Linked DNA regions of Homo sapiens: regions 2 and 3 are each linked to region 1. Evidence: fine-mapped expression QTL. A gene starts in region 1. Each other region holds a variant in brackets. All regions are shown on one strand. Distances are from middle to middle.

The links. PIP is the estimated chance that this variant, and not a neighbour inherited with it, causes the effect.
Region 2: its variant is fine-mapped to the expression of IFT43 in nasal epithelium (TOPMed, PIP 0.99).
Region 3: its variant is fine-mapped to the expression of IFT43 in testis (GTEx, PIP 0.98).

The regions. Positions count from the first base shown.
Region 1 is chr14:75,981,416-75,992,191 of GRCh38, forward strand. It overlaps IFT43 (intraflagellar transport 43), which reads left to right and starts at 4,348. Exons shown (of 9, transcript NM_001102564.3): 1 at 4,348-4,425; 2 at 7,470-7,562. The coding sequence starts at 4,372. It overlaps TGFB3 (transforming growth factor beta 3), which reads right to left and starts at 580. Exons shown (of 7, transcript NM_003239.5): 1 at 1-580. RefSeq lists silencers at 885-1,124, 1,255-1,374, 4,329-4,638 and enhancers at 1,155-1,214, 4,001-4,502.
Region 2 is chr14:76,079,619-76,090,394 of GRCh38, forward strand. IFT43 (intraflagellar transport 43) reads left to right here. Exons shown (of 9, transcript NM_001102564.3): 6 at 2,677-2,749; 7 at 2,999-3,074; 8 at 3,609-3,671; 9 at 3,840-4,124. The coding sequence ends at 3,959. LOC105370573 (a long non-coding RNA gene) reads right to left here and starts at 1,035. Exons shown (of 2, transcript XR_007064270.1): 1 at 944-1,035; 2 at 1-603. RefSeq lists an enhancer at 4,266-5,252. The variant G/A (reference allele first, on the strand shown) is at 4,531.
Region 3 is chr14:76,029,316-76,040,091 of GRCh38, forward strand. All of the region lies in intron 3 of IFT43 (intraflagellar transport 43), which reads left to right. Among named protein-coding and RNA genes, the nearest start is that of IFT43, 49 kb to the left of the region's middle. The variant T/C (reference allele first, on the strand shown) is at 4,645.

The DNA.
Region 1 (10,776 bases):
GGGAAAAAAAAGTAAAAAAAAAAAGATCACCAGTGAGTAGGTGGGGAGAAGCAGGGCCGGGCAGTTGCTGGCCCAGCTAAAGGTGGGGGCAGTACAGGACACACTTGTCTCTCAGGCACTCCATTCATGCTTTCTCTTTTGTTTACACTTCCTCGGGGGCTTTCTAAATGACTTTGTTCACGCTGCCTCTCGTCTTCATTGGCTGGGGTGTGGGGTTATATGCATTGGAAGGCAGGGAGGCAGGCCTCTGAGCGCAGCAGCCCCAATCATCCACTCAGACGCCCAGGGTCACCAGCACCTCGGCTTGTCTTCTGCCTCGGCCATTGCTTCTGTCCCCTGCTTCTCTTTAAAAAATAAAAAGGAGAAAAAAATAAAATAAAATAGAAGCCAGTTCACGGCACGCCTGCTCCGGAAAGCTGTTATTCCTTCTCTCGCACGCCTCTTCCCCTGTCTCTGCCTCTCTCGCTCATTCCCTTGGACTTGACTCTCTGCTTCCCTCCCTTTCTCTCTCTCCCTCTCCCTCTCCCTCTCGCTCCTCTCCCTCTCTCTCTCACACACACACACATGCACACACACTGCTTTCTCTATTTCTCTCTGCTGAAATTTTATACCTCCCTCCCATGACGTCTCTGGCCTGGGGTGGGGGAGGGAGGGACCAGCGCACGCAGCCTCTTTTGCTGCACGATGTTAATGTTTTAAACAGGCACAGGAAAAGCCGAGCCCTTTTGAAAAATACTTTGCGAGTCCTCTCGTTCGACGTGGTAGCTGAACTTTTTTTCCCCTCTTGGAATCACTCCTGCCACACGTTGGCTGTTTTTCTGGAAAGTTACTCCGATGAGCCCCCTCCCTCCCTTTCCCCCAGCCCCGGCGCCCTCTCGCCAGCTGTCAGTCCGCGCCGTCCGCGGCCCGCGTCTACTCTCCCTCCTGGTCCCCCGGTCCCGGGGCCGCCCGCGGGCCAGGCCCAACCCGGGGCAGGGTCCGCAGAGGGCGCGGGACCCGGTAGGGGCGGCCATGCCAGCCTCGCAGAGGGGACTCCCAGCCTGCGAGCCGGGTCGGAGGGTCGGCGTCCGCTCCGCGGCGATCCTGGCCCGATTCTTCATTGACAAGATCGGAGTCGGGAGGCGGGCAGAAGCCTGGAGACGCTCCAGGGGCAGTGAAAAATGGTGGCGTTTTCCGGAAGATCGAGGGTGCCCTCTGGCGAGGCGAGGCCGCCAGTGAAGGAGCTCGGCTGGTCGGGAGCCGGGGAGGCTCGGGGGCTGGGGGCTGCGGGGTGGGGGCTGAGGGGCGGGAGAAGGGGCTGCGGTAGAGAGCGAGAAAAACAAGACCCAGGCCCCGAGGAATCGCCTCCCTCCCGGCCCGACGTGCGCACGAGCGCACCTCTCCCTCCCCGACCGCCGCTCCGGAGCCGCTCTCGCAGAAATGTCATCCAGATGTTCAGCCTCCCTCCCCGCCGAGGTCTCCGCAGGGAGCTGCGCCAGCGAGCGCGAAGTCAGCAGTTGGCCCGAGCCCATTTCCCAGATGGGTGAGGGGAAGTCGGCTCTGTGCTTTCGCTCCTCTTCTCGGCCCGAACCTCTAGGCCTTTTCCCACGAGCAGCCAAGGGAGGGTAGGGCACGTGGCTCCCCGCACCCCGCAACACAGGGCTTGCCTCTGAACTGAACTTTCCTGAGAGTGAGTGCCGCTCCCACCCCATCTCACTCCAGCCTTCCTGGACCCTTTCTGAGAGGTCTGGCTTCCAGGCCACTAACTGAAGGGGCTGTTCTCTGTATCCCAGCACAGCGGTGGGTCACTTTACGGATGAGGAAACTGAGGCATAGAGTTTTTTGTTTTTTTTTTTACAGACCACACTGCTTGTGAGTGATGGAGGCGATATTTTACACAGGCTATCTAGCTTGGGTAGGCATTACTTTCATTTGCAAAACCAATGGGAAACCTAGGGGTAGAAACTTTAAAAGTAACTTGCCCAAGGTCACATAGTTATTAGGTGTCAGCTGTTGGGATTTGGACCCAGGACGTTGCCAGATTCTGGACTTAATTACTATGCTATACTGCCTCTGAAATTTCAGAAAAAGTTTAATGTTTACTATATACCAGGCACTATTCTAGGCTCTGTGAAGAATATCAGTGAACGAAACAAAACTCCTGCCCTCAGGGAAATTTTATTTTAGAGGCAGGGGTGGGGCAGTGGAGGAGGCGATAAACTAAATAAATATGTAAATGATGTAGTACGGTAAAAAGTGCTGAGCCAGGTGCAGTGGCTCACGCCTGTAATCCCAGCATTTGGGGAGGCCCATGCAGGAGGATTACTTGAGCTCAGGAATTCGAGACCAGCCCCAGCAACACGGCGAAACCCAGTCTCTACAAAAAAATGGAAAAATTAGCCCGGCATGTTGGCGCAGGCATCTACTTGGGAGGCTGAGGCAGGATAATCACTTGAGCCAGGGAGGCAGAGTTTACAGGGGGCCAAGATTGCACCACTGCACTCCAGCCTGGACGACAGAGCAAGACCGTGTCTCAAACAGACAAGCAAACAAACAAATGTGGTGTGGCAGAAAATCAAGCAGGGAAGGAGGATGGGGTGTGCCTAGGTTGGGGGATGTTGCAGTTTCAAATAGGGTGATAAGGGAAGGCCTTTGAGCAGACAGTTGCAAGATAGGAAGGAAAATTATTAAAGTTATACTTTTTTGGACTCCACCTCTACCAAATCAGTCTCCAGAGCTGAGGCCCTGGCATCTCTGTTTCTTTACAAACCTCACACGTGATTCAGGTGCTAAGCAAGTTCTGGAAGCTACTACTGCAGGGTACCTCTCTGCCCAGAGTGAGGACCATTTGCCTTCTGTTTTCAGCAAGTTGGGGAAGAAGTGGGGGTGAAGGTCTGGAAACTGACTATAAGGTGATGGTCGTATGCTGTGAGCTTACAAGAAATGGAAAAATCCAAAGATTAATCCCTTCTTCCTCATCTGGTGCCGAAGAAGAAGGGAACAAGGGATTCATTGGAGCCTATATTTCATCTGTCTTGGATTTTTGGCAATGAGTGTTTCTTCAGATTAAAATCTAACAAAGTATTCTCACTGAGAAGCAAGTTAACAAAGGATCTTAGAGATAATCTCTAAAGTAATTACAAGGGAGGAAACTGATAGCGGAAAGGGCTCTGCTCTGACTACACAGGTAGTTTTCAGGAGAGCTAAGATGAGAACACAGCTCTTCTGATATCCAGGCCAGTGCTCTTGCTGTCACAGGCATGCTAACACACAGTCCTATCCAGTAACATGTGTGACTGAACTGAGTGATTTACTGGATATTTAAGAAATGCTTGCAATGAGGTTTCAGGGGTGCTACTCCCACTTCCGAATCCTTGCTTTTAACCTGTGTCCATCCAGGCCTTCCCCTCAACATAATACTGGAATGTTGTTTGCTTTCAGGGCTATCAGCCCATCTCCTATGGATCTCAGCCAACCAGTGTCAGGGACCTGGCCAGTGATATTGACTTGGAGATCTCATATGAAGAGTCAACAAAGACGCAACTTAAATGCCCCATTAGGCTGGGAATTTGTGGTACATCTCCCTCTGCCAGCCTAGGAGAATGGCTGGCACCCAGTAGTATGTGCTGGAGATAAATACTCCAGTAATGTCTGGTGTCAGAAGGGCATTTGGCTCTGCTGCTTGGCACTTAGGTGATTTTCCTCAAGCCCCTTCTTTGTACCTCAGTGTGCTTTATTGTTGTGTTAGAGATACTACTGCTACTCACTTTGCGGGATTATTGGGATTTAATGAGATATTGAATATTTGTACTTTTGAAAGTTATTACTACTCAGCTATTTGATGTGTTGATTCAGCCTCTCTGTAAACTTCTTGAAGGCAGAGATTATGTATATTGCAGTTTCCATAATTCATGGTAAACCATTTATTACACCTGATTCCCTGTTTTCTCATCTGTCAAATGGAAACAATACCACTTATCTTGCTTCCCACACAAGGTTGTTAATGCCCCTCACGTTAAGCCAATAACTGTGACGGCCTTCTGTACCTTGCAAAGAGCTGTACAAGTGGGAGGCATCAGTATAGCAGTAGTAGTGCTTTGCACTTAATATATTGATATATTTAAACAGAGCTACAAATACAGACAGTTCCTAACGACCAAATTATTTTACCGTCTCGCAGGAGCAGCGTTGGCGAGTTTTAATAACCGGAGGTTGCTTCCAGATGTCAAGCAAGGCAGATTTAAGAAAGATTCGGTAGTTTGGAGGATGGCACACAGAATCCAGGAACCATGCTGCGTACCCTTTAAAAATTGGGGTGGAGGGGCGGGGCTGTTAGCAGGGACGCGTCTGGGCCAGTCGGTTTCCAGGAAGTGACGTCAGGCGGCCGCGGAGATGGAGGATTTGCTCGACTTGGACGAGGAGCTTCGCTACAGCTTGGCTACCTCCGTGAGGACCAATTCGGGGGCCTTGGGGGCCAGGATTTGGCGGGTGGGGAGGAGCGACCCCGCCGGCCCCGACTTCTCTGAGGCGACTCAGGGCGGCAGGCCTCGCGCCGCGCCGGGTGAGGCCCAGAAGGAGGCAGCCTCACCGCCCCGCCCCCAGGCCACTGTGGGCTCCGCCGCTGCTGGCCTGGGGTTTGCTTTCTTTAAAATCCTCAGAAAGTAGAAAACACCCTGTCCCCGCCGGCGTCTAGGACCGTGGGAAATTTCCGAGCCTTTCTCCGTTTTCTAGAGCCCCGAGTGCGAACTTCCCCAGAACAGATCGATCACAGGGTGATAGGGGAGCCCCGGCCGGGGTCGCACTCGCTCCCATCCTAGAGTTTTTCCTTTGGGACACCTCGTCGCAGAAGTTCCTGCAAAAGCCGCACTGTTTTATGCATGGAAGGGAGGCAGGCAGGGACGGCCTTTCTTCCCGGTAATCCCCGTGGGGAGGTGGGAGTTAACCTCAGTTACCTCAGTAGTTAAGGAAACCAAGACCGATTTGTAACGTGAGGGAGTGATTAGGTGCTCAGGCACTGAGGCCAGATGGAGCATAGAGCTGTTGCCTGGGTTCAAAAAAAAAAAAAAAACCTAAAAAACGATTTAACCTTTCCGAGCCTTGGTTTCCTTATGCCTAGAATGGAGGTGTTACAGTGAAAAGGAAATGCAACAATACATGGGAAGCGTGTAACTCAGTGCTTGGCATATGTTATCACGGAAGAGGTCAGAAGAGGTTAGCTACTGCTGCCTATGAGGCTGTGGTTTACCCAGCGTTATAGTTAGTAAATAATGGAGCTAGATTCAAGACCCAAGTTCAGTGTCTACCTTCCTCCTTTGTAACCCCCATCAGGCCTTTTTATCTTTAAAACTGGTTAGGATCGCACTTACTAAAAGATTGGGCCCCAGAGCAAGTCTTTAGTGTCTGCTGTGAAATCTCTAAGTGTTTTGAAGGTCACCAGGCCTGCTGATACGTGAATGTTTTTTAGTACCTGGGGATGTGAATGTAGTTATTCATTCATTCAACAAATATTTATTGAGCCCCTACTGTGTATCAGGCAGTGTCCTAGGTGCTGGAGATACAGCAATGAATAAAGCAAAGTTCCTGCCCTCATGTGATTATGTTGTAGTGGGAGAAGATGGGCAATAAATAGACTACATTTAACATACACAAAAATCAGGCAGTAAAGAAGTTTTTCTACCCTATGGATCTATACAGGGTCTTCAAAAAGTTTAAAACCTTGAAATACTTAAAAATTATTAGAGAAAACACCTGTGAACAGCATTTAGCGACAAGATCATTGAATTTTTGTTTTAGCACAACCGCCATATGTAGGATGCTGTATTCAGATACTCAGTGCTGTGACAAATGGAAAAGGGCAACCATGGTGAAGGGATGGAATTGTCTGACTTGAGAAGAAAATAAGCTGCTTATTATCAGAAAGATTGTTTCCACCATCCCTGAAACCTAAATGACACTACAATTTGAAGTGTCGACATTGCATAAGAGTTTTTACGAGCTCTTCTGTAACCCCTCTCAGTTTAGTGGGGCAGTCAGTCCTTAGAACATCTTAAAACAAGTTTCAGCAGGGTAGAGTGGAAAGCACCCAGGAAACCCAGGATCTGAAATCAGAAGGCTTTGCTCCTAGGTTTATGTCAGCCACTTCATCACCTTCCTAGGCCTCAGTTTCCTCCTTTGTAAAATGACAGCAGTCTCAGTTTCTGTCCATTATTGTGAGAATCAAAGGAAGCCACATTAAATGAGATCTAAAAGTGCTTATATTAATGCTGTTTTTTTTAAACAAAGTAAGCAAAAGTATAAATATTTCAGCACCCAAGAGTCTGACTAAATAAAGTTTTGTTTATGTGCTGGGAAGCCTTAGAGGCAGAGTCTCCACCGGAGGGCCTTGGGAAACACCTGCAAATGATTCATTTGATGGCCAAGAATTTTGAAGTGCTCTGATTTCCAAAGATAATGTCTCAAAATTCTTGTACTAGATTTCCCTTAATGTCTGTAAAGGCAAACCCAGTTACTGTACATATCAGAGCAAATGCTGTTTTCCATTTACCATGGAATTTAGGAATTCTTTCCAAAAGCCTGTTTGATAATGATTTTCATGCCAAGCTGCAGATTTGAAATTAAGCCTTCCTAAAATCCTGCGTAGGAACATGGGAGCATTTACCACCTTCTTCTCTGACCTGTGGCATGAGGTATCTGCCCATTCTAGAGGAATTTGTAACTGCATTTCTTTGGGTAGAAAATAGAATTTTCTTTTGCCATCTCTATAGCTGTTGAAAGAAAACCTTGTCCAGCCTGGGCAGCACAGGGGGACCCCATATCTACAAAAAAATAAAATAAAGTATCCAGATATGGTGGTGTGTACCTGTGGTCCCAGCTACTCAGGAGGGCAAGGTAGGAGGATCACTTGAGCCTAGGGGGTGGAGGCTGCGGTGAGCACTCCAGCCTGGGCAACAGAGTGAGAACCTGTCTTAATTTCCTATTTTCCTATCAAATAGAACTGACCTCAGGTGCTTTGTTTTAAGGGGTTTTAGAGGGTTTTCTAAAAACATGTCCAAGTAACTCAAATCCCGTTCTCCACCACATCATCATAAATCCAGTCCTTGCTTACCTTCCCAGGCTTGTCATCTTTTTTTTTGTTTTGTTTTGAGATGGAGTCTTGCTCTGTCACCCAGGCTGGAGTGCAGTGGCACAATTTCGGCTCACTGCAACCTCCGCCTCCCAGGTTCAAGCGATTCTCCCGCCTCAGCCTCCCAAATAGCTGGGACTACAGGCGCCCGCCACAACGCCAGGCTAATCTTTTGTGTTTTTAGTAGAGACGGGGTTTCACCGTGTTAGCCAGGATGGTCTGGATCTCCTGACCTTGTGATCTGCCTGCCTCGTCCTCCCAAAGTGCTGGGATTGCAGCTGTGAGCCACTGCGCCCGGCTGGATTGTCATCTCAGTAGTGGCCCAAATGACATTTGGGTCAGCAGTGCCTTCTGTTTCTCCTTACAGAGGGCCAAGATGGGTCGCCGAGCTCAACAGGAGTCAGCGCAGGCCGAGAATCACCTCAATGGCAAGAATTCCTCTTTGACTCTGACTGGAGAGGTGGGTGCTAAAAAAAAAGAAAATCTGAAGAAATACTGTTTAAGAGTTAGTGATTCCTTAATGACCAAGGATTTGGTATTCCATATTTCTTCTCTTGAATGCCAACCCTTTCTCCTGTCTTGATTTGGGAATTCCCTTCCTTGGCATTTGTCCTTGTAGCAGGAAATGGAAGAACTTTTTTTCCTTGATGCCAGACTAGTTTCTGTGCATTTCCTTATATTCTTAATGTAGAACTTTTTATGTTAGCTGAAGCAAGGGACTGGGAAGTTTCAAAATCCAGTAGGATTCCAGGTTTTTATTTCCGCTGAATAAATGCCAGTGAGGCAGACTGGTGACGTAAGGTTGGATTACACAATTGGACATTGCTCTCGGTGGTGACCTGCGCTTTCTACAGTCTTCCGGCAGGAAGCAGATCATTTACTGGCCTTACTTTCCTGGAAACTTTTCCGAGTAGCCTGGAATTATGGGAAATGATCCAGCTTCTTTGTGGAGGGTGGGTAATTCTGATGAGCAATACTTTTTACTGCCAGGGCACTACTTTTGGCAGCTTACTCAGAGCCCCTTTTTACCTTCCTCTGTCCATTTGAAAAAACTTTGCAAAAGTCAGCCTCAGGGTCATCCTCTGCCAGAAGTTAGCTCTTCTCTAACCTCTCCAGGCTGACTTAGCAGTCCTTCCTTTCACTTCCCATAGTACCTATTGTGAACATATGCCATTATATGTGAATTGTCTTTTTACATGTCTGTCTCCCCCACCGGACAGTGAGTTCCCAGACAGCAGGAAACCTGGCTTCTAGCTTGCTGGCCCATAGTAGGTTTGCAACAGATGAAGAGACCCATGCTGAGAAGCCTAATGGGTCAGGCAGGTGCATGAGCAAATGAACCGGGTACCTGACATGGACACACTTCACTTACATATCACATAGGTAGGAATATTCTTCATTTTCGTAGGAAATGCATTCTCCACCACTTTCTTAAGCTCTCCACATGGCCTTGTCCATTTATCTTTCATTTTCTCCTTTTAGAAGTGTGGGTATGGAGAATCATTACTTTAAGATAACATCTGTGCTGGCCTAGAAAAACTAGCAGCTGACCCCTTGGCATCACTGCCTGGAAGAAACTAGGGGAGTGAGTTAGGGCAGGGGGACTGGGAACTGGAGGCCACATGCCCCCTCTAAAGGGACAACCACTACTTAGCCAAAGCTGGTTGGTGCTGTCGAGAATACAGGCCCAGTATTGCCAGATATGATTCTTCAAGAGATGCTGGCAGTCTAAAATTTTATGTGAAAGCAACACATTTTTAGAGGTTAGCACCTGATTAAGAAAACCTAATCACCATATGGACTGGATATTAAATCATCATATGGGCTGGATTTGGTCCAAGGATTGTCAGTTTGTAACTGCGGCCATGGCACCTCCATTGTGATACTTATTACATTGTATTCTAATTGTTTACATATCTGGTTCTCTCATAAGATATGAGCATCTGGAAGGCAGAGGTTGTGTCTTATCATCGTACCCTATTATCTGTCACAGTGCCTGGCAGAATAGGCCTGCAATTGTTATTGCGCAGGATGAGGTGGGGTCAAGTACATAGTGTGTGATGTACTTACACATTAGAAGCTATGTAGAAGTGTTATGGGGCCTGGGGCAGGGAGGTTGGGAGGCGAGGATAGTGGAGCATTGGAGGCACAGTTAGGAGAGGTGATATAAAGTAGGAATTTGGTGAAAGAAGATATACCAGACCCAACCCTGGATCTCAGGGAGCTTGAACTGCAGTGGTGTATGTATTTAAAGAGAAAACGCGGAAGCAAATGACTGAGCTGATGGAAGCCAATTCTTGGCCTCTGGCACTTTACACTGTTCCACATGGGTCCAGGAGGATTAATTCCAACACCAGATCATTCATTCATTTACTCAACAACTATTTATTGAAGCACACAGTAAGTGCCAGGCACCATTTTGCAGGGTTGGCATATTTCAGTGAACAAAAGAGACAAGATCTCTTGCCATAATGGAAGTTACATTCTCGTGATCACTGGCACCCAGGAAGAATAATTAAAAGTCTACTTAAGGCTAGGCACAGTGGCTGATGCTTGTAACCCCTGTAACCCCAGCACTTTGGGAAGCCAAGGCAGGAGGATTGTTTGAACGTAGGAGTTCACGACCAGCCTGGGCAACCTTGTCTTTGCAAAATATTTAAAAATTAGCTGGGTTTGGGTGGCATGTGCCTATAGTCCCAGCTACTTGGGAGGCTGAGGCAGGAAAATTGCTTGAACCCGGGAGGCGGAGGTTGCAGTGAGCTGAGATCTTGCCATTGCACTCCAGCCTGGGCAACAAGAGTGATATATACATAAATATATAATTAACAATAAGAGTATATATTATATATATATATATAAATATTAACAAGAGTGTGTGTGTGTGTGTGTGTGTGTGTGTGTGTGTGTGTATGTATGTATATATATTTTAAAGTCTACTTAATTGTGAAGGAGGTTATAGCCACCTATGGTAGTTAGGTGAATGAGCCTGTGATGACCTCATTAGGCCTTGAAGCCTTATATGACCCCCATACCAAATCAGCTCCTAGGCTGGGGTCAGTGGGCCCTGCTTGCCTACCATCCACTTCCCTTGGCTCCCATGTGAGAATCATTGCTGTGAGAATATAACTCCATAGTCACAGAGTGTGATGAATCCTTTCAGGGTTTCAGCCATTCAGTAATACCTACTTATTTCGAGGTTTACCTTTTTTTAACTCTGTGCATTACCATTTTTGTGGGAGAACATGATGAAAAGTCATTCTGCTCTTCACCCAACTGTTGCCTCTGAAAGCAAGATGCCAGTTAGGATTCCAGGATCCCTTTCTCCCTGGGCTAATTGAGGTTTAAACAGTGTGGGCAGCCTCCCACGGGGCCAGATGCTCACTGTGCTGTGTGGGACTTTTTGGCTGTTTCTTTCTAAAATTAGATCCCAAGACTTGTGTGTGTGCCCATTTACATTCCGATTCTATTACTTGATATATTTATTTTTGTCCTCTTGCTGACTGTATTCTAGGATGAAGATATCCATGCAAACGTAAATATGGTACCTGGGAGCTGTCAGACATGCTGGAGTTACTTTAGACTTAAGTGGAAATTAGTTCAAACACATGGTTATTTTAAAGCGAGGTAGTGGAGTTGGGAGCTCTGGTGAAGGAAGCAGAAAGAACACAGGGCTT
Region 2 (10,776 bases), 98 kb after region 1:
TCTCCGTTTTAGCAACATTGAAGAAAAGGAAAATAAAATAAACATAATTTTTGGATTTTTTAAAATGGTGGTTGCTTTTCAAAAGTACCAGAACCGACTCCTGTCTTCCTTGTATTGTCTCTGTTAAAATCGTGTGCTTTGCATGTCAGACTTTACAACCTGAATCAGGCTACATCACCAGTCCACCTTTGCAGGTCGCCACTGTCTCTTACTGGAGGCAGGCCGGATCACTGCTCATAGGTAATTTTGTGAAGAAGCTAGTTTCCTAAGTCTATTTTCTTTTTTCTGTGTTCGTTCATGGTATACGTGAGAGTGGGGGAGTGGGGAGGGGGGAAGGAGATAAAAAGAAAAAAAAAATTCCCCAGAACATATTATGTGCTCATGAGCACTTGCCTGTGATTGTAAATCAGAAACTGTAAAATTGTGAAGTTCTTTGAAGTTTGCCCAAAACCTGCTCTGCAGACACCTGTTCTGCTGGGGGCCGGAGTTGGATGGCCTGCCTCTGCTGCGATGGCTCAAGCTGTCACTGCACAAGAATGTTCCAGCTTGCCTTGGCCTGGCTGTCATCGCTGGCTCTGTCCCACTCAGGCGGTTCACCGGGTTCTGCTGGGCACCAGGCTTCCAATTAGAGAGAAATCCCACTGTGTGGCCAGCCCCACCAGCGCCGCTCTGAGCAGCCCCTTTGCCAAGGCCCGAGCTGACCTCTGATCTGTCACAGATGGGCCAGCCCCACACTCTTTGTGCACATTTGGAGGAGGGGGTTGGGGACGAAGAGGGAAGCCTGTGGGGAGTGAGAGTGGACATCGGGCAGAAGTGCAATTCCTCAGAGCCCCAAGACGCTGGGCAGAGTTGACAGGACCCAAATGCTAAAGTTGTGGAGGGAAAGGGGAGTTTGGGAAGACCCTGTCCTGAGCCCTAAACTCAGCACAGTGCATTTTCTTACCAACTTCTGAATATTCATCTCAGGCTGGATTCTGCACCCGAGGAGAGCCAGGCACACTCCAAAACTGTCACACTGCCGATGGTGCGTGGCACAGCCAGCTTCCTCTCTGTCCCTCCATAGGGCCTGTGCAGTCTTACCAGCCTGGGGAACGGCATTCTCAGCAGCCTGCACAATGGACTGTATTAATCACGTAGAACGAGAGGGAAAAAGAAAGCTAAATTTCTATTAGCATAAGAAATAGAATCTTAGAGCATTCCATCTCCAATTCTCTAGCAGGATAGAGAGATATAATCTAAGCTCTGAACAGCTTCTTTCTAGCTATAAGACTTGCTAAATGTGGTTCATTATTTGGGGGGTGGTGGATGTGTCTCTGCTTTATTTTCCCTAGCAGCAATTTCTTTCTATTTTTATCCCTTTTCACTCTTTTTATCCCTTGTTTTCTCTGCCTGTCTCTTTCTGTTGAATTTTCTCTGTGTCTGTCTCTCCTTTGCATGCTCTCTTTTTCCAGGTACAACATCTGTGCCTCCACAGTCGGAAGTCATAATAAAGACACCAGGCTTGGAACTGACATTTCCATCCTCTGGCGTCACTTGACTAGAGTGATCAAAAGTCGAAATCACGAATTGCCTGAAAGTGGCAAGGGCCTTCTCAGCTGTTGTTGAAATGATTTGCACCTCTTTGAAAACTAAGATTGAATTCAGTCCATGAAAGCAGAAATGAAAGATGTCTTCACCAGTCTACCTTTGGGATTTCTCCTTCTTTCCGTGTTTACAGTTGCTTTGGGAATTCCAGGACTGTCTCACCCCACCAGGCCTTTTTTCTTGCACCATCCCTCCCTTCTCCCCCACCCCTGACCGTTTAAAACAAAATGTCTCAACCAGTCAGTGATACTCACTTGGAGAAGGAAATGTTTCTTTAGGATGTTAGGTTGACCCATGAGAACATGGACAATTTTTGGTCACTTAAGCAAGTTGCCACAATTAAGGGATGGACTGGTTTCCCAGTTCTCTGTTTGCATGATTTTGTTGGACTGGTGGAAGAAATGGCCTCGTGTCTCCTCGTATGTTGTCTGGAGAGTTCAGAGATGGAAAATCTTGAGACAGCAAGAAAAGCATGATTGTAGAATCAGCATCCCTGATTACATTAGACCTGGCAAATGGACGCCTGGATCCCAGGGAGTCAGGCTATGTCATTAGATGGAAGATGCCCTTGAGATGCAGGCTGAGGGCCCTGATGATTGCACTGCGGGGCTAATGCACATAGAGATCTGGGTCATGAGGAGTGGCACTCACTGCGGCATCCGCTTTGTGACACTACATGTTCTCAGTTCCTCTGTCTCTGACCATGCCAGGCTCACTTGTCAGTTCCTCTTCTTTCCTCTAATAAGCCCTTTGTTACATTTATTTCTTTACATTTCTCCTTGGAGATCCACTGCAGTGGCTTCTAACCTGTTGCACGCGTCAGAATCACCAAGGAACGCCTGGGAAAAAAATCTGGATGCTTGAGCGTGACCCAGGAGGTTCTATCTCAGCAGGTTCTGGAATGAGGCCTGGGATTCAGACATCGTTGAAACTCCACCTTTGATCCTACCCCTAGTTTGTATCTGAGTGTCCTTCCTGCCCCAGCCCACAGCCCCATGGCTGGTGTGTTGAAGGGGAATGAGTAAGAAGTGGAGAAGCAGGCACAATCCCTATGAGTTCTGCAGACAGTGTTGCCTCTGCCTCTCCTTGCAGATATTCCTATCATTCCGGATCTGGAGGAAGTACAGGAAGAAGACTTTGTTTTGCAGGTGGCAGCCCCTCCCAGGTAGGTTAAATCAGATATGATTGGGGAGGCAAAGAACACGTGAATTAATACACTCCAGATATCATCTATAGTGGACCTTGATGTCAATCTGGATCTTTCTGGTGTTGGGCTCCATCCAGGGTTCCCATTTTGTTATTCCCATTCTGGTCATCCCCTGCTGTATACAAGGTTCTGGGGACGGTGGCCCGGCAGCACTCCTGGAACAGGTCCTGCCTGGGGTTCCCGCCTCTCGCTCTCTCTTTCCTTCAGCATCCAGATAAAGCGGGTGATGACCTACCGTGACCTGGACAATGACCTCATGAAGTACTCAGCCATTCAGACACTGGTGAGTGGAACAGCTTCTGCATAGAGAGGCGGGCTCCAAGCAATGGGCTTCAATCCGTAGAGATTTCTCAGTTCCTCCCAAGCTATACAGCGCCTCCACCAGTCCCCTGAGGCTGCCTGCCTGGCACCCATACCTCTGCTGCAGGTTTTATCATCATTCATCTCACAGCAACCCTGGACCCAACATAGTACAGTGTTTCTCAGTGCCAGGCTCCCACCTGCCTCCATGGCTGCCCACTTGGCACCTGATGGCACCCCACTCCCCTCTGTCCCTGTGGCTGTACTGCTGTCACACTCGGTCCTCCTGGTATGGTCCTTTGCCCCAAAGCACGCCCAGCATGTGGGAAGCATAGCCTTCCCTCATTTCTCAGTGGGCATGTGGTTCATTCATGATTTTACTCTCTTGTGAAGGCATTCCTGCAGGTCTCAGTTTGGGAAGTTCTGACACACAAAAACTGATCCCGGTTTTGTGAGAAAGAGTTGCCTGAAAGCCCTCAAGGTGCTCAGCCTGACCTTTTTTTGTTTGCATTCACAGGATGGGGAGATCGACCTGAAACTCCTCACCAAAGTGCTCGCGCCGGAGCACGAAGTCCGGGAGGTACAGTGGTGGCAGCAATTCCCCGGTCTCTCAGCTCTGGCATTCCCATAACCAGCCGACTCCCGGGCTGGCCTGTGCCTCCCTGAGGCCTGGATGGGAGGGAGAAGTCAGCTACAGTTGAGGGAAAAGGCCTTTCTTTGTCTTACCCAGCGAAACCCTTCTTGGCAGGATGATGTCGGCTGGGACTGGGACCATCTGTTCACTGAGGTGTCCTCAGAGGTCCTCACTGAGTGGGACCCACTGCAGACGGAGAAGGAGGACCCTGCGGGGCAGGCCAGGCACACCTGAGCCCGTCACCCATGCTCTAGACATGAAGAAATGCAATGAGCTTAAAGCTAAAGAAGCTTGTAAGCAGCTCCGAATTTTTACCTGGAATATTTTGTAATAAAAATATTTATATTCAGTCAACCACATTGGATAATTCAATTGCAATAAATTGCTTATTCTGTGCCATCTCCTCCATTTCTTTCCAGTCTCTTCTTGGAAAATGTATCACAAGTGAAGGAGAACAGCTTTTAAACCAGCTGATAGGAACTCAGAACTCGCGGCCTTGTTGCGGAGCATGTGGGAGAGTTCGATTCAGGCGGAGAAGGAGTGGGCACTCCTACTGAAAGCTGTTCACTTCTCGGGAGGTTTCAAACAGTTGCCTGCTGGGGTTCTGGGGCGGGGCCTCCCTTCCCGTGGGTGCTCTGGGCCCTTTGTGACCTTAGTGACGCAGCACTGCCACCTGCATCATAGGCTTCCAGGCAGCTGCAGCGGAGGGAGGAGGCGGCGGGAGGGATAAGGAGACTCATTCTTCACTCGCATCAGGGTTTGGTGGCTGTTGTGACAATATTCTCCTTTCTCCCCTCTTCCTGCA[G/A]TCCATGCCTTGAGCTCCAAAAGCTTCTACAGGTTCCCAGAGCCTCATTTCTGATTCTCATGGGAAGGGGCCAGCCAGCAGCCCTGAGAATTCCATGGAAGCCCTCTCTTACAGAGCCTGGGCCTCCCTTCTCCTTATCCTTTTAGATACGTTGCAGCCATCTCCACCGCTGCAAGTATTATAACCGCCTGGTTCCAAGATGTGCTGAGATCAGGAGCAGAGTCCCACCCTTCTCCTAAACAGAGCTGTCTTTTGTTTTTGTTTTTCTCTTTTCCTCCCTGAGACTTCTTATCTGAGGACAGAGCCCCTTCGCTGCCTGCTTCTCTTGGATGCGGCTTTGGGTTAGGCTGGCAGCAGCTAACTAAGGCCCACTCCCCGGCCATAGGGAGCGCTGAGTGCTTCTGTTATCCTGCCTGGAAAGCCCTTCATTAAAATTCAGAAAAACAAAGAGGCTCAACACATCAAAAACCCACTGGGGGGTTATTTTTGTGTGACTACGGTGCCCTTCCCCGGCGAGCCACATGGCTCCAGAACAGGCAGAGCGAATGCTTGTCTGTTAATTATAAACTCGGGGATTTAGTGGCTTTAGGGTTCCATTTCCTCCTTTTCCAGAGTCACACTTTTAGCCCAGGCAGCCCCTCTTTGGAATAATTCCCATGGCCACTGAAAAGTTTCCATCCAGGCTAGTTTTGCTTGAGTCTACATCAGTCTGAAACCCAAAGGAGAAAGGCTGTATTTCTACTCCCTTAATTACTGGAAATCCAACTGCCTCAGGACTCTGATAACCTTGGAGGTCTCCAGCCAGCCTGAGCAAGTGGCTAGGGGCTGACTTCCTTTCTCCCTTTATTTTACAACAGCAGCAACAAGATCTAACATGGAGCTCTCACTGCATGCCAGGTGCTGGGTTCAGCACACAGGAATGATCAGATTTCATCCTCACAGCCTCCCAGTAAAGCAGATGCTGTGGTTATCCCATTTTACAGATGAGGAAACAGACTCAGAGAGGTTAAGAGATCGCCCAAGATTATCCAGCTGAGTGGCAGAGCTGGAATTCCAAGTTCTGATGCCACAGCGCTTTACCACCTGTGTTTCTGTTACCCACTGCTGCCTTCATCTTGGGAAAGTAATCTAGTTTATAGCAGACAGAATTTACAAGTTCACTGGGAGAAAGAAGTCCACTGCCACCACCCCTCCCCGTCCCCACTCTTGTCTGTGGAGTGACCACAGAGCAGAGGGCTTCTGTCAGTCCCCTGGTGTGAAGCCTGGCAACATAGGTGAGCTCAAGAGTCCTGGCCCCAGGGCAGTGGGACTGGGTAGGAGCAGCTCTACGTTGAGCAAACTGAGCTCAGCCAAATCAGGTCCAGGCCACATGTGACTGAGTCTCCTTTCACTTGTCCTGTGCCCTGATCATGTCCTGTCTGGGCTTCTTCCTTTACCCAGCATTTGCTCATCATGGCTTCAGGGTGCCAGAGGAATGGGATGTTGCAGAATCTATGACCGCCCAGTTCTCATCTGACATGGAAAATACCTTCCTTAGGTTACATCCAACGGTGTCATATACTTGACTTCAGAGAGCCTTTCAGGAACATGGCCCAAGAGGGCAGTGACAGAATCAATAAGCATCCACAGGTAGCAGCAATATGGTTTTGTGCAGGTGTGGGGGAGCATGAAGTGAAGAATCTTGGTGCTGCCATTTCTAGTAATACATGGCTTGTTAACCAGTTCCTTACCAGTTTCTCTTAGACGGGCTCAAGTCACTTCTGAGCAGGCTTGGGTAGCCCAGCTGGTCTCTGACAAAATCTCCCCTGGTGTCTTTGGCATTAGGTGGTCACGGCAGAGATGCCGTTCATAGGCCGGGCTGTGATGGGGAAGTTCATTACTTTGTGGAATAATTGATTGCCACTTCCCTCAGGCCAGGCTCTGGTCTAGACACTCCAGATACAGAACTAGACAGGCAAAACTCCCTTCCCTTATAGAGCTTACATTCTGGAAGGGGAGATGGACAAATAAAGTAAAATAGATAGTGTCTCAAGTGGTAAGAGATACTATAGAGAAAAATGAAGCCGGCACAGGGAAGGGAGTGCTGGGGAGGGGGGTCGTGATTTTTTAATAGGGCAATCGGGAGGCCTCCCTGAGAAGGGAGCATTTGGGCACACAACTGACAAGGTGAAGGAAGGAGTGAGACTGGTGCCCAGGGAACAGTGCTCTCAGTAGCAGGAACAGTATTTGCAAAAACCAGGAGGAAGGCATGTGCCTGACCTGTTGGAGGAGTGGCTGGAAGTCAAGGTGCCCGGGGTGGGGGTGACAACGAAAGAGAAGGTTCTCTGGCTCGCTGTGCCCAAGGCCCGGCTTGTCACAGGAAAGGCCTCTGGGTGTCTGGGGTCCTCTCCCTCCTGTGATGACAGCATTCTCAGGCTTCCTTGGGCTTGACAGGCACACTATGGAAAACTTCCCTCAAACTACTGCATGGCCTCTTCATGCCTTGGCCTGGAAGAGGCAGAACTATTGATGCTACATTGCAGGAGAGAACAATGAGCTCTGTCTGTCAGAGACCAGAGGCTGGGAGGCTGCTGCCAGCTCCCCACCAGGAAGGAGGGTGTGCCCACTGCACCAGACAGTCAGAGAGGCACTATAAGGCCCCTGCACGGAGTGCTCCCTGGGAACTCGGCTCCCAGTGAAGAGCTCAAGCCAGAAATTCATCCAGGCAGGCCGGCAGCTGAAGCTTAGGTCATCTCTATCCTTGACTGGTGGTTCATCTTTGCTAAACCCCACGACACTCCAGATGGGCATTTATAACTACATGCTCTCACTGGAAACATGCCACCACCTGTTCAGTGTTGCTTGATCAAAATGTGTTACTGGCACAAATCAAGGCCTTCCTGCTTAGTAGGTAAGGGCGCTTCTGGGCTCATTGCTGCCAGAGACCTGCATGCAAAGTGCTGTTTACTGCAGAGAGATGTGGAAGCGTAGACTCTGCCTTGCTTGACCAAGCAGCACCATGCTTTTCTCCTTCAGGTCAAAGAGTCAATGGGGAAAAGGGTAGGTAGAGGGAATAGGAGTAAATAACAGTGGCAAAGAGCACAGGTTCTAGAATCAGGCAGAATGGGGCTCCAGTCCCAGCTCTGCCTTGTAGCTCTGGGCCCTGGAGCAAGCTGCTTTCCCTTTCTGATCCTGTTTTCTAATCTGGAAAATGGGATGATATTAATATTGTCTTCTTGGGATTGTGGCGCCCAGTAAAAGCCAGCTGCTGTTATTGGATTTGAGAACTGGATAAGATTGAAAAGTTAACGTAGGAAAAGTGACAGTTTATGGCAACAGTGCCTGCAGTTTGCTAGGGGGTATCACCTTCATCTCCCCTCATGAATCACTTCTCAGCCATGGATGGAAAGATGGCTTGGCACCAGGTTTTGTTTTGTTTTGTTATTTGTAACAGCTTTATTTAGATAAAAGTTGTGTGCCGTAAAATTAAGAGTACACAATTGAAGTTGTACAATTCAGTGATTTTTAGGAAATATATGAGTTTCTGCAGCCATCACCATAATCCTGTTCTAGAACATTTTCCTCATCCTACAGAATTCCCTTGTGTCCATTTACAGTTAATTCCTGCTTTCATCCCCAGCCTTGGGCAACTGCTCTCCGGCCCCATCAGTTTGCTGATTCTGGACAGTCCTGAGTAGCTGGGATTACAGGCGTGTGCCACCATGCCCGGCTAATTTTTGTATTTTCAGTAGAGACAGGGTTTCACCATGTTGGCCAGGCTGGTCTCGAACTCCTGAGCTCAAGTGATTCGCCTGCCTCGGCCCCACAAAGTGCTGGGATTACAGGTGTGAGCACTGTGCCCGGCTGCACAGATGTTTTCATTCCACCTAGGTAGATTCCTAGGAATTAAATTGCTGGATCATATGGTATGTTTACGTTTAACTTTTAAGAAACTGCCAAACTGTTTTTCAGGGCCTCAGTTCTTTAGGATATCAGGGTTAAGTAAGTACTTTTTTCTTGTTTCCTGTCCTTAATTTTTTCAAAGGCTGCTGTTGAGTTTGTGGGAGGCATATTCTTCTGATTCCTCCCTCCCTGCCTTCTTCCTATCATTGAGTTTATCTCTGCTTTGAGAACATAGGCCTCATCTGTCTGTATTCCCCACTAGCCTGTAAGCTCTTCCAGTCCAAGACTAGGTGTTGATCGCATTTCTATCCAACTGCATGCCTATTCCAGGAGTTCAAAGTCAAATAAAGCACACTCCTGACCTCTAGAAACTCACAAGCTAGCAAATAAATAGTGTGTGAGTGAAGGAGCCCATATGATCTGCAAAATACAGATGGGAGGAGAGAGAGAGGGATACTTCGCCCACCAAGAAATAACAGAGGTGGGGCTGATTTGCTTTGAGCGAAGGCCACTTGGTTCTTGTAAAGTTTTACAGGAACACAGCCATGCTCATTTGTTTACGTGCTCATTTGTTTACAACAGCTCATTTGTCGATGGCTGCCTTTATGCTACAAGGGGCAGAACTTAGTTGTGACAGAGATCGTCTGGCCTACAACGCCTAAAATATTAGCTATCTGCCGCTTTGCAGAAAAATGTTGCCAACCCCTCCTTAGAGGAGAGAATGAAGATGAGAAATAACAAACCTGCGTGCTCTCAAAGTTCAGCTGCTTGTTTCTATCCAGGAAATTCATTGCAGCAGGAGTGATTTGAGTTAAATGTAAGGAAAGACTAGAAGGGTGGGGAGATTCTGGCCCCTAAAGGAGAGACAACCTTTCTTTAAGAAAAGGAAACGAGCACTCATCAGTTCCAGGAACAGGGACATGATCTATCTGGAGACAAAAAAGCTGGAAAGGGGGACATCTGGCTCCTTCTTGGCCCTTTGATCCTACTTGGGATGTGGGGGTGAGGAAGTCTCTAGGAGCCAAATGCCTTTGTCAGCGGGCTCAGGATATTGAAGAGAAGGCCCAGTGGAGTGGGTGTTAGAAGCAAGGGAAGGGGAAAATGTTGATTTTTCTTTTGGCAAGGCAGAAATCAGAAAGCAAGGGTGGTGGGAGCAGAACGAGGAAGAAGCCGTTCTTCTGTGGCTGTGCCGGAGTGAATTAATTCACGGCATATGTTCCTAGCATCTGTCGTGGTGACCTGGACTGGAGGGGTCAGTGAGAGAGGAGACCATGCCAGGACTGAGCATTAGCCCAGAATTCCCAGGCTGCAGGGGCTCTTGGCTCCCACCGAACGCTGGCTGGCCAGCCCACCCAGGAACAGCTGCTGCAGCTGCAGCCACCAGCGCTGCCTCGGGGAGGAGGGAGAGCATCCCCTTCCTGTGCTCCCCACAAGAAAACACCTGGCCAAGGAGGGGCTGGGAGAAGACCAGAAAGAATCCTGCAGAACGCTATCTCTTCCAGACCTTTAGCGGCGGTAGATTCCACCCAGCAGCCACACGTCCGCCAGCAGACTGCAGGTGTGTCCCCAAAGGACAGCACAGGAGGGGTGAGAGAGCCACAGCCCTGAATGGAGAATGAACAAGAATTTGGGGACTTCCTCTTAAGTGTCAGTCCCAGAATTTCCCTGGATGCTATGTGGGCTGCGTGGTGCTGAAGTGTCCCTTGTGAGTTGATGGTCAGCCCAGAGGAAGCAAGGCAGGCAGGCGTGGTGGCTGAGAATGGGATGATGCCAGGTTCACATCTGTGCTCTTCCACGTCGCAGCTGTACGACCTTGGGTATGTTCTCATAACTCCTTGAGCCTCAGTTTTCTCATCTGTGGAGTGACGCTGAAAATCATTCCTGAATCACAGGGCTATTGTGATGATTAAATGAGCTGATGCTTGTTGAGCTGATGCTTGTTAAGTGTCTGGCACAAAGTAAGCCCTCAATGAAGATTAGTTCTGATCACATTGAATGGGCAGGCAGTGGTCACTTGTTGTGCCTGATCATAAATCACAGGGCATTAGGACCTGACCGGACCTGAGTGGGCATCTACCCCAAGGTCACAAACTGGAGGCCATAGGCTGATGCTGACTCACAGGACATGTTGGGTTTGGCTCATGCACTGTTTTTAATTGTTTTGTTAATTATCAACATTTAAAACTGAAAGGTTTAGACTTCCAGCTTCTCTTGGAAAATAACTGCTTGCTCCCAAAGTTCAGCTGCTTATTTCTATCCAGAAAATTAATTGCAGCTTCCAGCTTCTCTTAGAAAATGGGAGGATCGGCCGTGCATGGTGGCTCATGCCTGTAATCCCAGCACTTCGGGAGGGTGAGGTGGGCA
Region 3 (10,776 bases), 48 kb after region 1:
TTTTCTTGTTGATTTGTTTAACTTCCTTATAGATTTTGGATATTAGTCCTTTGTCAGATGCATAGTTTGCAAAAATTTTCTCCCATTCTTAGGTTATTTGTTTACCCTGTTGATAGTTTCTCTTGCTGTGCAGAAGCTTGTTAATTTAATTAGATCCCACTTGTCAATTTTTCCTTTTGTCACAGTTGCTTTTGAGGACTTGGTTATAAATTCTTTGCCAAAGCTGACATCCAGAAGGATATTTCCTAGGCTTTCTTCTAGGATTTTTATAGTTCGAGATCTTACATTTAAGTCGTTGATCCATCTTGAGTTAATTTTTCTTATATAGTGATAGGAAGGGGTCCAGTTTCATTCTTTTACATATGGTTAGCTAGTTTTCCCAGCACCATTTATTGAATAGGATGTCCTTTCCCTGTTGCTTATTTTTGTTGACTTTGCCACAGATTGGTTGGTTGAAGGTATGCTGTTCTAGTTCTAGATATTCTGTTCTGTTCCATTGGCCTCTGTGCCTATTTTTGTACTTTTTTTATTTTTATTTTTATTTTATTTTATTTTATTTTATTTTATTTTATTTTATTTTATTTGAGACAGGATCTTTCTCTGTTGCCCAGGCTGGAGTGCAGTGGTGCAATCATAGTTCACTGTAACCCAGACTCCTGGGCTCAAGTGATTCTCCTGCTTCAGCCTCCCCAGTAGCTAGGACTGCAGGCATGCACCACAATGCCTGGCTAATTTTTTTAAATTCTTATTTTTGTAGAGCTGTGGTCTCACTGTGTTGCTGAGGCTGGTCTCAAACTCCTGGCAATCGTCCTACTTTGGCCTCCCCAAGTGCTGAGATTATAGCCATGAACTATTGCACCCAGCTGGACTCATGGATTTGTATTGTTCATTGTGTTATAATTCATTTCCATCATCACAGTTTTTTTTTCTATAATACTAATGATTATTAGTGCTCAGATTGTCCCATGTTTGGCCAGGGAGAACTTTGAGATGGCTCTTATGCTTTTGTGCTTTATTAGTATTAGAGTACGTGCTTGCTTTTCAACGCAGCAAGATATTCCAGAATAAATTTGTATTTTCCATGTTTAGTCCAGGAGTCAGCTACTTCTCCAAGGACTCCTGGGTCCTTTTGGTGGAGAATAGTTATAGAATTCACGGTCTATATACACACTGCCCATTGCTATTGGATATCTTTGCTTCTAGGCTCTTTTAGTAGGTAGAACTAGGAAACACATTTTAAAAAATACGCTCTATCCTGTAACACACATAAAGTAGTTTTACAGTTACTATACTAATGTCATTATCAAAAACAAACTTCCTAAGTAAAACTCAAGATTTCTTTGTGGTTCTTTTTGTCCTTAGAATATATCACACTAAGGTTCAGGATACTGTTTTCGGAAGTTATTTGAATTATTTCTCATACAGGTTAAGATATCAATTTAATACACAATTACATTCACTTGTTTCTGTCTGTGTTCAATTTTAAGGTTTTTAAAAATCCTTTTTATTCAATTTACTTTTGAATATGTAGAACATTTACACCAATCAATAGTTAAAATTGTATAGAAAGATGTATTCAGTGATGTCTCACTCCCATCCTTATCATCCTCTCCACCTCATTCCCGTCCATCCCATATAGGCAGTTTCTTTATTAGTTTCTGGTTTATCTTTCCTATACTTCTTTTTGGAAAAGTAAACATATGTGTATATATATATAATTATATATACATACATAAAAATTATATAATTTATATAATATACATATATAAATTATATATGTATATATAAGTTTTTATATTTCTCCTCCTTTGTTTCTATATCCTAGGTGTCAGTGAACTATGGCCCACAGGCCAGCTGCCTATTTTTATAAAGTTTTATTGGAATACAGCCACACCCTTTCATTTTAAAAATTGAGATTGCTGATCCACGTGGAATTTATTTTGGTGTATGGTTTTACTTTTTTCTAAATGGCTATTGTCCCAGCACCACTTATTTAAAAATCCATCTTTCTCTAGTGATTTGAGAAGCCACCTTTATCGTATTCTAAATCTTTGTACTTACCCGAGTCTGCTTTTGGATGCGTTATTCTGTGCCAGTGGTGTCTCTATTCCTAGGCTATTATGTAGCATGCTGTTTTACTTATAGACCATAACAATCATTTTTAGTGTTAAGCGAAAACAAGAAGGTGACGCAGAAATGCAGGTCTCATCTACTAATGTGAATCTTATGGAGGAGCTTTGTTTTCCTAAATTATTAGGGGATTTTAGTACTTGTCATATCTGGAATTTATTTTGAAATAAGAAAATAAGACAAATCCTGTCTGCTTCTTAGAGAACAAAAGATTATCACAAGTATTCATTCCTCAGTGAAAATATTAAAGATTTTTCCAGATCAAATCCATTTCCTCTTGGAGAAAGAAGCTTTTCCTTGTCACCTGTTACTTTCTGAGGTATTCACTTGCTTGGCTTTTCAGTCTGTGGCCTGGTTCTGACCCCTCGAAATGTTGGAGTGCCCAGGGCTCTTCCTCTAACCTTCTCTCTTCTCTGTCAACACTCACTTTCTGCATGATCTCAACCCAGTCTCAGGTTTGACTATCGTCTACGCAGTGATGACTCCAGAATTTATGTTTATATTTCCAGCCCAGTTCTCCTCCTGGACAGCCATTTGCCTGCTTGATGTTTTCAACTGGAATATGCAACACAAACCTGACACATCCAAATTAGTCTTCTAATTTCAACCCCTTCTACCCCCTCCCCTAATCGTGCCTCCAAAGTCATCCCTAGATCTCGGTAAGTGGTGACTCTTATCTTCCTAATTGCTCAGATTGTAAACTTTGGAATTATCCTGGCCTCCTCTCTTTATATCACCCTATTCAGTCTGCCAGCAAACCCTGTTAGGTCTACTGTTGAAATACATCTGTTGTCTGAACTGCCAGCACCTGGCTGCAGCCACCATCATTTCTTGCACTGGCTCAAGTGAGAACTTCCTGACGAGGCTCCCTCTGTGTTATCTCTGCATAACCAGAGTGACTCTTTTAAAACATCAGTGCAAACCTTTTACTTGTATACTCAGAACCCTGCAGTAGCATGCCAACCAGTCAAAGTAAAACCCAAAGTCCTTACCATGGCTTACAAGGTCCTACCTTACCTCACTTTACATAAAGTAGCACCCCTCATCGCTCTGTGGTCCCCATTGCCTGCTTTATTTACTGCCACCTGACATATCCACATGCATGCATACATATTCTCTTTTTCTATCTGCTGCAATGTAAGCTCTATGAGAGGAGACACACTCTCTTATTTACATACCCCCAGTCTCCTGCACAGTGCCTAGTCCATAATAAGCACTCGGTGACTATTTATTGAACATATGAATGATCAGATCAGTATTTTTAAACGGTCACTTTACTTTCGGTGTGGAAGGTGGAGAGCTGAAAGGCTGGAAGACCTGTTGGGATAAGAGCCTAAACCAGGGCCATGTTGTGAGGATGGAAAGGAAAGATGATGTGGAGACATTTTGGAGGTAGAGTTAATAGAAATACCAGTGGTTGGATGTGCGGCAGAGGGAGGAGTTGAAGGTCACTGCAAGGAGCCCCACTTAGGTGTCTGGTTGGGTCATGGTGCTATAAGAGAGGGAAGGCAGGAGGGACCTGATTTAGGAGCTGATGGTGGGACATGTGGGTAATTTCCATAGCTCAAGAGTCTAAAAGTGAGGTCAAAAAAGAGATGCACTTTGAGTCATCTACAAAAGTAGGAGAAGACAAGGACAGATCATTGGATTTGGCTATTTGGAGGTTACAAGGGGCCTTTGAGAAAGTGGTTACAGTCATTTGCATTGGAGCCCCAGCCAGATTGCAGTAGACTGAAGAGGAAGTGGGACATGAGGAAGTGGCCAGTAATATAGGATACTATGAAAAAAGGAAAGGGATGGAACAGTATTTGGAAGAAGAGTCTAGATTAAGAATCATGTCTGCAATATTCGAGGAAAGAGTAATTAGAAATGAAGTAGGGGGTTAACTGATGTAGCAGGATACTGGAGGGATAGAATAAGACCTTCCAGGAGAGATTGATTGACCTTGGACAGGAGGAAGTAGGGCGGATAGTTTTCCTCCAAAACAGACGGAGCTTGGAAAGGCTGGGTAAGTTATTGAGGAGGGTTGAGGGGAATGGGGACTTTAGAGAATTTCCTTTTGGTTTGGCTTCTTTTTTTTTCCATTCTTCAAAGTGGGAAGACAGACTGACTGTTGAGATTGTTGAGGCAAAGGAGAGTGGCATCTTGAAGTCAAGTAGAGCAGATTTAAAACAGAAAAAGAGGCTGATGAGGGGTAAGAGAGGCAACTTTCGAGCTTTGAGGACCTACCTCATTAAGGTTGGAAACATGAGCTCCTACCATTTGCTGGATACTCTAGTGAGTACCAGAGTGGAAGATATACTTCCTGTCCCGCAAGAGCTCAAATTCTAATTTAGGAGACATTTTCATCCACAAAAATCAGGAATGGCAAAAGGAGCATATTGGCAGAAGGTGCACATAGTAAGTGAGGAACAAATGAATGAGTAACACTGGTGATGGGATATCAGAAGAGAGAGTAATCATTATGGTCAGGGAGTGTCTTATAGCGGAGATAGGAGTCAAGCTGGATGAATT[T/C]TGATGGTCAGAACAGGATCATGAAGAAGGCATTTTGGTTTAAGATCTGGTGTTGTGAGAGTGATAGTAACTTTATTGTCAGTCTAGTTACAGCAGAGAATTGACCCCGGAAAATAGCGTATTCACCTTAAATTCTTTTTGGGTGATAATAACAATGGCATTGTGCTAGATACTTGTCTTAATTTGGCTGCTATAACAAGTTACCGTATATGGGGAGGTTTAAACAACAAACCTTTATTTCTCATGATTCTGGAGGCTGGAAATCTGAGATCAGGGTGCCATTGTGGTTGGGTTCTTGGTGAGGACCATTTTCCTAGTTACGTCCTTAAGTGTCTTTTCTTGGTATGTGCATGTAAGGAGTGAGATTTTATGTCTCTTCCTTGTCCCCATCATGAGGGCTCCACCCTCATAATCTCATCTAAACCTAATCAGCTCTGAAAGTCCCACCTCCAACCACCATCCCATTGGGGATTAGGATTTCAACATAAGAATTTTGGGGAGACACAAATATTCAGTCCGTAGCAGCACCTTATATGTGCATTACACCAACTCTGTTGGGTAGATTCTGTTCAATAAGCTAGGTATCCCTGTGCAAAGAAGGTAGGAGGAAAGTGTCACCAGTGAGAAGTAGAAGGGCTGTTTATGAATCTGATTGAGGAGCTCATAGCTAAGGAATATGAGTTTCTGGGATACCTTGGCTTTATTTGCATAACACTGCCCAGGATAGAGAACAGAACATGTGTCAGCCACCTCACTGGCTAGATATGTTGGGTGCCAGGGCTCCATTGCTCATCCTTGAGCCACAGAAAGGGCCAAGTTCAGGAATTGCCTGGGGCCTGGGATCACTACCAGTCCCTTCCCCTTGGCGTCAGAGTCATAGCTATGCCAGAGATTCCATCTTGGAGCTGTCCTTGGCTCTGAAGTTGCCCGAGGTAGGACACTTATGGTGGGTCACTGACTTCGCCATGGGGAATAGAGCTGAAGAGAGAAAGCCAACTTGGTAAAGAGAGGAAGGAAAGGTAGTTTGATTAAGTTTTGTCTCAAAGTGTCTGTTTTTGGGTTTGTCCCTGCATTGATCTGCAAGGGAATGAGGCAAGTAATGGCCCCTCAGGGACTTTCAGGACTTTGCTCTCAATGTCAGCCGTCATTTTCAATCACCCTCTCCCTCCCAGCCATTAATTTTGGCCCAGGATCATGGGGACTTGTCCATCTATCACTCCTAATTGACACTAAATGATCTGTCAGTTTATTGATGAACGGCAGGAGTGGAATTGTCACAATATATTTTACTTTCTAACAACTCCTCCTGACAATTTTACCTTGTCCATCTCACTCTCCTCACATAAATCTCCATTGGCTGCTCATTCCTTCTCATGGGCTGTTCTGGTGCCAGCCACTTCCACACCATCTGCACGCATCAAGGACATTAAGATGGCGGTAGAACTGCTGTGTGCTGGTCCCGAGGTTATCCCCCTTCCCTCCTCCTTCTCTCTTTCTCTCTCTCTCTTTTTTAATGGCATTGATGTTCCAAGGATACTAAAGGGCTTCTGTCCTCTCCCTTTATGTCATTGCCATACCAGAATCTTTTTGCTTCCCTTTAGCAGCAAGTAGTTGATTCCTATTAGGCTAAAAAGTGTGAAAAGCAAAAACTCATGGAGCCAGAGGGCTCCTAGATCTGTAAGCACAGTTGCAAACATACGTTCTGTCCTTTTAAACCGGCTCTGTTATAGGCTGTCCATCCCCATAGAAGTCAATTTCCCAGAAAGGTGTCACAGAGGGAAGGTTAGCTGGAGCTGCCCAGCTGGTGTGCCATGTGCTGCACTGTGGGTGCCAGTGTGCCATGATGTGGGCACACCCTGCCTGTGGGGTAGACCTAGCCAAGGCCCCTAGGCTGGTCACCTGTGGCCATGAGAAGTCTCATCTGTCCACCCATTTGTGTGTTATTTTTAATTGCTTCATGTCTTGAAAAAGACAGGGAAGTACTATGTCAGACATATATAAGGGCACACAGTTATTTAGTCTCAAGAAGATATACCTATGGATGTGAACACGCTTTATCCTATATGAGGCCAAGGATGAGTAGAAAAGCTTGACGATATATAAATAATAAATAATGCAATTGATTCCCTTCCTCATACCTTTCCTGCTGCTGCTGGAGATAATTTTTATTAATTGATAAGGACTGTTTTTGTTTGTTAACCATCATGACATTAGGATGCATATCAAAATTAATAATTCCTTAATGTCATCTGATATCCAGGTCATATTGAGTTACTTCCATTGTCTCAAAAATGTGTTTTATAGGTGGATTGTAAACAGAACAAATCAAGGTCCATATATTGTATTTAGCCATTTCCTTCCTTCCTTCCTTCCTTCTTTCCTTCCTTCCTTTTTTTTGTTTGTTTGTTCGTTCGTTTGTTCTTTTGTTCTTTCGTTCTTTCTGTCTTTCTTTTTTTTTTTTTTTTTGGTGGAGTCTCACTCTCTTGCCCAGCCTATAATGCAGTGGTGTGATCTCGGCTCACTGAGTCTCCGCCACCCAGGTTCAAGCAATTCTCCCACCTCAGCCTCCCAAGTAGCTGAAACTACAGGCGCGCGCCACCACACCTGGCTTATTTTTGTATTTTTAGTAGAGACAAGGTTTTGCCATGCTGGCCAAGCTGGTCTTGAACTCCTGACCTCAGGTGATCCTCCTGTCTCGGCCTCCCAAAGTGCTGGGATTACAGGCGTGAGCCACCATGCCTGGCCTAGTTGTTATATTTCTATAGTCTCTATTTTATTCTGCAACAATCACCACCCCCCTATGTTTTCCCAATGCCATTGATCTTCTCTTCCTCCCTCCCTTCCTTCCTTCCCTCCCTCTGTCCCTCCCTCCCTCCTTCTTTTTTAGAAACAGGATCTTGCTCTGTTGCTCAGGCTAGAGTGCAGTGGCACGATCATAGCTCACTGCAACCTTGAACTCCTAGGCTCAAGTGATACTCCTGCCCCAGCCTCCCGATTAGCTAGGACAGGTGCACGCCACCATGCCTGGCTAAATGTTTAAAAATTTTTTGGAGAGACAAGGTCTTGCTGTGTTGCCCAGGTGGCCATGATGATTTCCTTTTTTAAAGAAACTTGTCCTGTAGAATTTCCCACATTCTGGATGTGGTCTGTTGCTTCCTAGTCATGGTGTTTAACTTGTTTCTCTGTCCCTCATATTCCCTGTTAAACTGATAGTTAGGTGTAGCTCTAACTGGGAGTTCCATTTAGGCCCAGTTTTGGCAGGAATACTTTGTAGGTGATGCCGTGTACATCCCACTGTATTGCCTTGAAGGCACAGGTATGAGAAGGCACAGGTGTCCGGTCATTCCACTTTCAGCCTGTGATTGACCAGTGGGGGCAGGGCTGTGTGAGTCTCCACTTTATAGCGCCCATCAGACTCCCCTCTCATGGTTGTAGCATCCATTGCTCATAGTTGCTAGAGCCATGATTTCATTAAAGGTTGTCAAGTGATGACTGTCTAATTTCCATTTATTAACAGAAATTCTTCTGTAATGAACTCTTACCAGCTACTTGGCTGCTTGAAATACATTTTATACTTGTAACCCTACCTTTTTCTCTTAGTATTTTTATTTTAAAAAATTTCAAACCTATAGAAAAGTTGCAGTATTAGTACAGCAAACACCCATGCACACTTTTACCTTGAACAACCAGTTGTTAATATTTGCCTAAATGTGGCTTTTCCCTCATTCTCTGTTTTTTTTTTTTTAATTTTATTGAACTGATTAAGAGCTGCAGCTGCCTTTGCCTTTGCATTACTATTAATAGTAACAAGCGAGTGGTTACTATGCAAGAGATATTTGTCTATTTTGTTTGCATCTGGGTCTGTAGGGCTTGGAACACATAGGTGCTCCATACATATTTGATCAATGAGTAAATTTGGGGCATTTCTTACAGAGCTCTAATAATTGAAAAGGGTGTCCCTGGTAGGACGAGGCAGCTCTGATTTCCAGTAAAGTAAAAGGACTTAATCCTTGACCTTCAGATTTTCATTGGTAAACACAATTTTGCTCATTTGGTTTTCAAGAAACACAAAACAAAATTAGAAGTATTGAGAATTGATTTTTCCCTTGCTACCCTTAGCCGCAAAGAACCCGGAATCAGTATGGCATGACCGGAGTCCTGGGCAACGTGGGTTCTTAACTGTCAGTCAGGTACCAGAAATGAGTGTCCAATATTGGGTAAAATCAGATGGGGCTGTTGCATGTGAGATGGTTGAGAAGGGAAGGTCTTAGGAAGCTAATTGTGCTCGCATTTCCAGTGGCTGTGCCTAGAGTTTAGAGGCTATGTCTCTATTTCTGTGGTTTTTGGAGATGCTCGTGTGAACTCTCTGCTTGGATCTCTGTCTCAATTTCACCGTCATGCATTTTGCCCTGCATAGATGCTTTTCTTTCACGTGCCTTCCAAGATATGGTCAGTTTAGAAAGGATGGCTTTAGGACCATGTGACATCATATCTTTTTAATGTACATCTTAGATTTGTTTATTCTAGGTAGGCTCCCCAAAGTGTAATTTTTTGCTTTGCTCTCAGAGCCTGGACAGAAAGATGATAGAGGAAGAGCTAGATAAGTTTTTATTTTCATGAACTTAGAGAATCCACAGTTATTTTGAAAAATTGGGATTCAGTTGCATTGTTTATTATAGGAAATCATAGATGTTCAGCAAGATTTGAAGATGAATAGCCCCCCAGACTGTGTACATCGAAATAACTAGGGAAAAATAATTATCCCCATTGAAGTAGGGAAAAGTGTGAGATGTGTCACACTCATGCTATCTTTAGTCCTTTCCTATCTTCACACATTTGTATTATTTTGGTAGATTTCATTTGTTCTGGTAGCTGGCGGGTGGGGAGGAATGAGAATAATGGATGGGTCATGGTGGAACAGCTCATCTGTGGAGCCTGTTCCCTGTTAAACTGATAGTTAGACCTCGCTCTAACTGGTGGTCGCATTTGGGCCTGGTGTCCTTTCCTACTTAGCCCCTGAAATGTGTACAGTGAGGTGGGTACTTCCTGAAAGTCACTGTTCATGGGCACAGATGTAAAAGTAAGCATTTGTTCATTCTGTGGACCCTTGTCCAGCACAGGCACGCAGGTCTAATGTTAGACACAACCCCTTTTTGTAATGGTATGTTGCATTTTTTTTTTTTTCTTTTTTTAGACAGGGTCTCATTCTGTTGCCCAGGTTGGAGGGTGGGGATGTGATCATAGTTCACTGTAATCTCAAACTCCTGAGCTCAAGCTGTCCTCCGGCCTCAGCCTCCTCAGTAGCTGGGACTACAGGTACTCCTGCGTAGTTGAGACTACAGGCGTGTGCCACCATACTCGCCACGTTTTTAAATTTTTTGTAGAGATGAAGTCTTGCTATGTCACTGAGGCTGGTTTTGAATTCCTGATCTCACGCAATCCTCCTGCCTTGGTCTCCCAAAAGTGCTGGGATTACAGGTGTGAATCATTGTGCCTGGCCTGCCTTTTTGTGGAGTGAAGTGTCTTTGACCTTAAAGCTCAAATGTAACTAAGTTGAGAAAGGTGGATCATTTCAAGAGGGCTGGAAGAGAGAAAGGGAGTGGGATGTGGAGACAGTATACATTTTTAGATTTTAGTCTTTGTATAACATCGTGTCTTCTTTTGAGACATTAGAACTACTGGTGAATTTTATTTATTTATTTTTAAATAAAAAAGAAACATAGTATAGAATTCAAAAGATATGAAAGAGTGGGATATGAAACCTGAGTCTCTCTCTCCCTTCCTGACTTTCTCAGGCACCCAGTTTCCTCTCCTGGAGGCAACCACTTTTAACCAGTTTTTTTCGTGTTTCTCTCCAAAGGTACTCTATGCAGGTTAATATATTCTCCTCACCCACCTACAGACACAAATGGGAACATATGCATTCTGCACTTTTAAAAAAATCTCTAACAATATTTCTTGCTGATCTTTCTGAATCTCAGTACAGAGTAGAAGAGCTTCTTTTCTTTTTTACAAAAGGGTCTCACTCTGTCACCCAGGCTGGAGTGAGGTGGCGTGATCATGGGTCACTGCAGCCTTGACCTCCCAGCCTCAAGCAATCCTCCCATCTCAGCCTCTTGAGTAGCTGGGACT